Linked DNA regions of Homo sapiens. The protein of the gene in region 1 interacts with the protein of each later gene in a pairwise test. Each region holds a gene or a part of one and is shown on either strand. Other genes may lie near its edges.

What was found.
Region 2: the proteins of MPC2 (region 1) and SYT16 interact in binary tests that used the Homo sapiens proteins (3 or more experiments, as listed by UniProt).

What each region holds. Positions count from the first base shown.
Region 1 is NC_000001.11:167,916,361-167,920,109, forward strand, and holds the end of MPC2 (mitochondrial pyruvate carrier 2), read right to left. Parts: intron 3,731-3,749; coding exon 3,619-3,730; intron 2,000-3,618; coding exon 1,963-1,999; 3' UTR 315-1,962; downstream 1-314. UniProt on the Homo sapiens protein: Mediates the uptake of pyruvate into mitochondria.
Region 2 is NC_000014.9:61,810,621-61,814,369, reverse strand, and holds the start of SYT16 (synaptotagmin-16), read right to left. Parts: upstream 1,668-3,749; 5' UTR 1,573-1,667; coding exon of another isoform or gene 1,560-1,572; intron 1-1,559. UniProt on the Homo sapiens protein: May be involved in the trafficking and exocytosis of secretory vesicles in non-neuronal tissues. Is Ca(2+)-independent.

The DNA of each region.
Region 1 (3,749 bases):
CACACCCAGCTAATTTTTGTATTATTAGTAGAGACGGGGTTTTACCATGTTGGCCAGGCTGGTCTCGAACTCCTGCCCTCAGGTGATTCACCTGCCTTGGCCTCCCAAAGTGCTCGGATTACAGGCGTGAGCCACCGCACCTGGCCAAGATTTAATTTTTAAGATTAAAAAATTGGATAGATTAAGAGTTTTGGGGCAGAAAAGAAAAGAAGCATGTGATGGTTGTTTGTCAATGAAACTTCTGAGAAACAAGAAAGGAGGACTGCCTATGATTGTATCTAAATGCTACAACAAATTTGACTGACAAGAGGGGCTTAGGAGACCCCGCACAGAAGAGGTTTTAATGAAAAGGAAGTGAAACACCAAGCTCACATAAATTTTTAATAAACTTTTTTGTGTCTATGTCATATTTCATAATGTTTTTCCTAAATGCTTAACCTAGGAAACACATGTGTGCACACCCATGCCAAACACACAAATGAATTTAACAGTGTGGTTTATGAAATGAAAGCAATAATAGTTTGACTCTTCAGAACCTCTTCATTGTGGCCTATGTCAAGCTCTCTAATCTTTTCTCCTCAATGGTAGGCCATGGTTAAGGGACAGATGATAAAGTACAAGGTTTTCAATTGCTAACTGCCAAATTTTCATAGGTTATAGTATTACTCAAAAAGTTGTTTTGTCTCATTTCTTCAAATTTTGAAATAACTTGCTTTGCTGACTCATCTGACTATATTTTTAATGAGGACTGGCTTTATTAGCACTTTTAGAAAAAAAGCTCTGCACTCCACACTGAAAGTCAAATCAAATAGATAGTTAATTATTTGTAGCGTGGAGTAATGTATGCTCAGTCTCTCCTCACAACGGAGCCAAAGGTCACAAACATTTACAGAAAACCTACTTATGTCCCAGGTACTCTGCTAGGTACTTTCCTAACTTGTCTAAAGTCACAGCATAGGCTGGGTATGGTGGCTCATGCCTGTATTCCAGCACTTTGACAGGACGAGGCGGGCAGATCACCTGAGCCCAGGAGTTCGAGACCAGCCTGGGCAACATGACAAAACCCTACCTCTACAAAAATACAAAAATTAGCTGGGTGTGGTGGTGTGTGCCTGTAGTCCCAGCTGCTCGGGAGGCTGAGGCAGGAGGATCACTTGAGCCCAGGAGGTAGGGTTTGCAGTGAGCCGAGATTGTGCCACTGCACTCCAGCCTGGGCCACAGAGCGAGACCCTGTCTCAAAAAAAAAAAAAAAAAAAAAGTCACAACAGATAAGTCATAGAGCTGGGATTCAAATTCAGGTCTGTCTGAATATAGAGTATTTTCTGCTACATTATCAGTTACTGAGGGTAATTGAAAAATTTAACACTTATCATGGACCAGGCACTATGTTAAAACATTATCTCATTAATCTTTACAATGATCCTATTTAAAAATCTGTAGCTGTAAAAGAATTTTATACAACATTTATACAAAAATCATCAAGATTCTTCATGGCAAGTTAAAATGTTTTTAAATAGTTTGAGGTCATCTTGATAGTCATTCCACTACCCATTTCTCAGTCTCTTCAGCAAAATTTCCTTTCACTTATAGCTAGCTACCTGACCATCCTACACTAAATAAGCAGATAATTTAATCTTCCAACTTCTTGAATTTGTGTGTTCTTTTATGTACATATGTTGGCTGACTGGAACAGAAGGAGGCAGGGGGTATATACGAGCAAGTATGGTTTATTACGGACAAATGGTAGAAAAATGTTACTAATATCCATAGATAAGTTCCTTAAGTCATGTAGAGAGACTGTTATTAAAAGTTTGCTGCATTTTTCTATTGAATCAAGAACTAGCTACCAGTTACAGTGCCTTCTAAACACACAGTTAGCTTTGCTTTATCAATAACCAAATAATAAACTAGGTCCCAATGGTTTTGTCCACATCTAGATTGTTCAGGTGATCAGGAACTCTTTTATTTGTGTGCTTTAGCTTTTAGTTCTTGGTTATATCTATAAAGAAAACAGAAAGAAAAATAATCATCAATAATAATAGACAAATTTATGGTAAGGAGAGAATGGGAAGCATACTCCATTTCTTCTTTCTTGGTGGTCAAGTAGCTATACAGTTGTAAACAGAATCTTCCCGGAGGGCTTACAGGTAGAAACAGGCAGAAAGGAAAGGATTCAAAGAGTTCATTTGCATCTGGATTTTGTTTCAGATAATAAGAGCACAACTGCCAAAAACTTTTTTTTTTTTTTTTTGAGATGGAGTCTCACTCTGTCGCCCAGGCTGGAGTGTAGTGGTGTGATCTCGGCTCGCTGCAAGCTCTGCCTCCCGGGTTCACGCCATTCTCCTGCCTCAGCCCCCCGAGTAGCTGGGACTACAGGCGCCCGCCACCACTTCTGGCTAATTTTTTGTATTTTTAGTAGAGATGGTGTTTCACCGTGTTAGCCAGGATGGTCTCGATCTCCTGACCTTGTGGTCTGCCTGCCTCGGCCTCCCAAAGTGCTGGGATTACAGGAGTGAGCCACCATGCCCGGCCTGCCAAAAACTTTTAACAGCTTAGCTGACATATAGTTTCCTGTGCAAAAGTATTATTTTAATAAAAATATTCTCATTCTGGAATTCTACAAGAACGTGACAAACTTGTGAACATATGTATAAAATTTAGTAAAATGTGGTCACCTAGAATTTTAAAATTTATACTCGCAAAGCACCTTTCCTAAGAATAAGATCAACAGGTAAAGTAAAATATACTAAAGTAATCACTAAAGTAAAATATACTTCTAACCACTAAGGTAAAATATACTTCTGTGATGCAGGCAGGCTATTGGGTTAACAGCCTGTAAACACTTAAGTTCACAAACGCTAAGGACCATTTCCTCAATTCTCAATCCAAAGAAGTAACCACAGAGCCATAGTCTTTCCTTCCCTTCTACCATACCTTGGGCTTCATTTACTATTCCTCCTAGCTTATAATGGAATGGAGAGTAGTATAAAAGCATAAGAAGGAACTTATTCCATGAAGCCAACCATACCTCCTAGGTTTCTCAAAAGATCCTGATTTCAAATATTTGATCATAATGTCATTATCATAAATCACTGACAATATTAACTACTGAGTAAATAGTTTAAAAATTTCCAGTGCTCATGGAACACTTTCCAATGAAAGCAAAGACCTCACTCTACGTATCATTTCCAATACTACATAACAATACACTTAAGTTCCAATTTATTATATACAATTGAAAGTGATAAAAGGTTTACATAAGAAATTAATAAATCATAAACTGTATATGTTGTCTTAATAAAAGAGATTATGTGAGATGGTTAACCATCTAAATGATGCACAGTTAAATCTAAAAACTAGGTAACATACTGCTTAACTGATTTTAGTCAGTTAACTAGTTAACTGGTTAACTTATTTGTAAACCCCTAGACTTTTCTAGAAATGTTAAATTTCTACTTTAGATACTTCTTGTCTTAGCATTATATATGAATCTTTTAAAAAAATTAGTGCCATCTCCAGCCTGGGCAACAGAGCGAGACCCCGTCTCAAAAAAAAAAAAAATTAGTGCCATCTAAGTAGCTTTTGCAACAGTTTTAAAAATATCTCTGGTAGGCTTACCTCCAAATACGAAAAAGCTGAGAGGCTCCTGCTGCCCCCACAAAGAAATTAACAGCAAACAGACTCCAATTTTTTGGAATAATTACAAGTGAGTATCTTGACCAAATAAACCCTGTTGAAACAAAATGTTA
Region 2 (3,749 bases), on another chromosome or scaffold:
CAATAAGGCCAAATCTCATGATCTCCTTCTTTGTTGAGTCTTACTTTGTTAAGTAAAGCTTCAACCATAATTTTTTTTCTAAACACACACACACACGAATGGAATCACACTTTGTATAAATGAACAGAGCTGAGGAAAGGGAAATTTGGCCCAAATTAGCTGATTTTACTGGAAACACCTGATCAACATTTTTCTCTTTAAAAAGGAGGAAAGCATGTTGGTATCCCCACACATATCAGATGATGGCAAAACAGCAGGGAGAGGACAACCACCATTTACTGAAGGCCACCTGTGTGCCCATCGCTTGTAAGAGCTATGAATGACAGCCTTGTCCTAATTTAGAGAAACTGAGGACAGTGCCATGGTCCCACTGCTAGGGAATTCTAGAGAGATAAAATACAGGTCTGTTTGACTACAAAAACTCAAGCTCTCCACACTATCCTAAAGCTGTGTTCTTGGCTGGGATGATTGTTTACAAGAAAAATAATAAATTATTGCAGAAATTTTGACATCTCATTTTCCCATCTCTTTTCCTCCTCACCTCTCAAAAAAAAAAAAAAAAAAATACCTTCCAAAGGGCCTCTGTAGCCAGCACACCATTTGATTTTTGTTTTTTTCCTCTGTGGCCCAGACTGGAGTGCAATGGCAGGGTCATAGCTCACAGCAGCCTCGCACTCCTGGGCTCAAGTGATCCTCCCGCCTCGGCCTCCCAAAGTGCTGGGATTACAGGCCTGAGCCAGCACATCCAGCCCCATTCACTCATCTAATGAAGTCCCTAACATGCGCCACACCTGTGCTAGGGACTTTGGATGCTAGGTACGCAGGTGTGACTTGGTTTTACTCTGAACTCCCTTTGAAGCTTCACTAATACGTATCTGGCTTCAAACGCAACTAACTTAACCAGTTTTCACAGACGGGATTCCAATTTCCAAAGGCACTGAGCCATAAGAGCAGCGGTGCCAAGATGCCAAAAGCAGGCCAACCCAGCGCCTTCCAACGCTTCCATTCAGAGTTTCAACCTGATGTCTCCAGGCACTCCTCCCACCCACTGACCATGGTAACCAGATGCGGTCTCCAGCCGGCCTTGTGCTGCCCGCTGCGAATACAGCCCGTGGGCCACCGGGCAGCCGAGCCATGCAAGCCACCCTGATCCCCAAAAGGCAGACGCACAAACCCGACCCAGAACTCGAGGCGAACCTTGAACTCACAGCGCCAAAAACGCGCAGTGCCTTCGTTTGCCCGGCTCGCTGAAGGCTGGCTCTGGGCCTGGGGGCAGTGCCCGCGAAGGGCTGCGATGGCAGGCCCCGCTGCCACACGGCATCGAGGGTCCCTCCGCCTCGGCGCCAGGCGCACGCCCTTCTGCCACATCCCTCGCGGGGCGCGCCGCCAGGGCCACCTGCCCTTTCAAGCCCCGCCAGGCAGCCAAGGGTGAGGAGCGGAGAGGGACCCGGCCGCTGCTGCCGCGAGCCAGCACAAAGGCAGCGTCTGAAATCGAACTTCCCACCCTGGGCACCGCGGCCTCCCCCCACCCCTGGCCTCCGCGGCCGGAGCGCACTCACTGTCAGTCGCCATGGTCGGACGAGGGGGCTGCCCGACGGCCGCCCAGGTTCGGGAAACCGGCGCCGAGCCCGGCCGGGCGCGCGCTCCTCGGCAGGCCCGGTGCGCTCGGGGGCCGCGCCGCGCACAGCCCCTCCTGCCGCGCGCCCCCGCCGCGCCGCGCCGCCCCGCGCCGCCCCGCGCCCAGCAGCCGCCAGCCCTGCGGCCGCCGCCGGCGTCCTGAGAGCCCAGCCTCCCGGGCAGAACGGCCGAGCTGCGGCGCCTAGAGGCTGGATCTCCCCCTCCTCGCCTCGCCGCGTCCGTCCCCCTCCCCTCCTTTCCTTTCCCGCCCCTCCCCCAAAGAGGATGCTCGCCGCAACTTGGAAACACGCTCCCGGCCACGCTAGGGTCGCCTCTCCACGCCACCTTTCCTACAACGTTCCCGCTATATCCTTGTTTTCGAGTCACCTTTTCCATTCTCCGCTTCATCCCTACCTCGAGCTTCTCACCAGCGGGGTTGGGACCCCATGCTCAGCCCCAGCTGGAAGGAGCAAAGCGGGAGAAGAGCTAGGGGTGTGGGGAGGATGAGCCAGGTGCTGGGCATTAATCCTCCGGGGCAGGAGCTCTCCTGCGAAACCGCTCAACGCCATCTCCGTAGGCTCCAAGTGGGCCGTGCTCTTCATGTCACCCTCTGTTTTGTCTCCGATGTGAAAATAGTTCCCAGCACGTAGTAGGCTCTCAGCAGATTTCTGTTGAGTGGGTGAATGGATGTCTTTATAACTGGATGCCTGCATGAATGAATGAATGAATGGCCAACTAACTGATTGGACGTCCACTGGATGAGCAACTGATACATGATCATAGCCAACTACAGCCCTGCCACTGACTAGGGATGGACGCTAGAGTAAGTAAGTGGACCAGGCCGAATGAGTGAGCCGGAGTCTTGTGCCTCACAGGCCATTGTGGTTCAGGAGGGCTCTGAACTGAGGCTGTCAGTTCAGAATGATGTTGTATACATCTTCTTGAAGTCCAAAAACCAATTTCTGATGGATTATTGGATTATTCTGCCATTACTTTTGCACCAACCTAATATATTAGGGGACAGTTGTACATTAGAAACCCCCGTCTCCACCACCAGATCCATCATGTGAAGGATCAAATGGCTCAAACACATCCCCTAAATTACATGGCAGGCTAGATACTTCTTAAAGATACAATACATTTCGCCCAGGCATGGTGGCTTAAGCCTGTAATCCCAACACTTTGGGAGGCCAAAGTAGGAGAATCACTTTAGCCCGGGAGTTCAAGTCTGCAGTAAACTATGATTGCACCACTGCACTCCAGCCTGGGTGAAAGAGCAAGACCCTGTCCCTAGTTTTTAAAAGAAGAAAAAAGGGCCGGGTTCACGCCTGTAATCCTAGCACTTTGAGAGGTCTAGGCAGGTGGATAGCTTGAGCCCAAGAGTTTGAGACAAGCCTGGGCAACATAGTGAGACCCTGTCTCTAGAAAAAATAAAACAAAAATTAGCCAGGCTGGTGGTGCATGCCTGTGGTCCCAGCTACTCAGTAGGCTGAGGGGGAAGATCACTTGAGGCTGGGAGGTGAAGGCCGCAGTGAGCTGAGATCATACTACTGCACTCCAGCCTGGGTGACAGAATGAGACCCTGTCTTAAAAATAAAATAAAATAAAAATACAAAGATACAATCCATTTGATGCATTTGGAGATGCACATTCAACCCAATCAGCCCCGGGCTGGATGCTGAGAAGACTCAGGAGCAAGGCTCCCGTCTGCCTATCCACTAGCTCCCACGTGGCTAGGCAGACAGAAAACTGCCAGAGAACAACACAGGAGTCCTCTCTGGTCAGTTCACAGAGCACGATGAGGGAGAGAATATTCTGATCAGGCTCCACATTCTGATTCAGTCCACCTAGAGTAGCACTTAGGGGTGTCCTTTTTTTAAATTGTGTTTAGCCTTTATTTGTTTTAACACAGGTGATTCTGAAGCAGACTTCTAGTTAAGAACCACAGAGACCTGGTTCATTTGTCTTTCACAACAACCATCTGCAGTAGACCCAAAAGCCAACACTCTGGAAGTGGGTTGGATGGGGAAAAGGAAAAAAGAATTAAACATGACCCTGGAGTCTTTAACCTGTTTGGAGCTCACAAACCAGGAGGTTAAAGGAAAAAAGAATTAAACATGACCCTGGAGTCT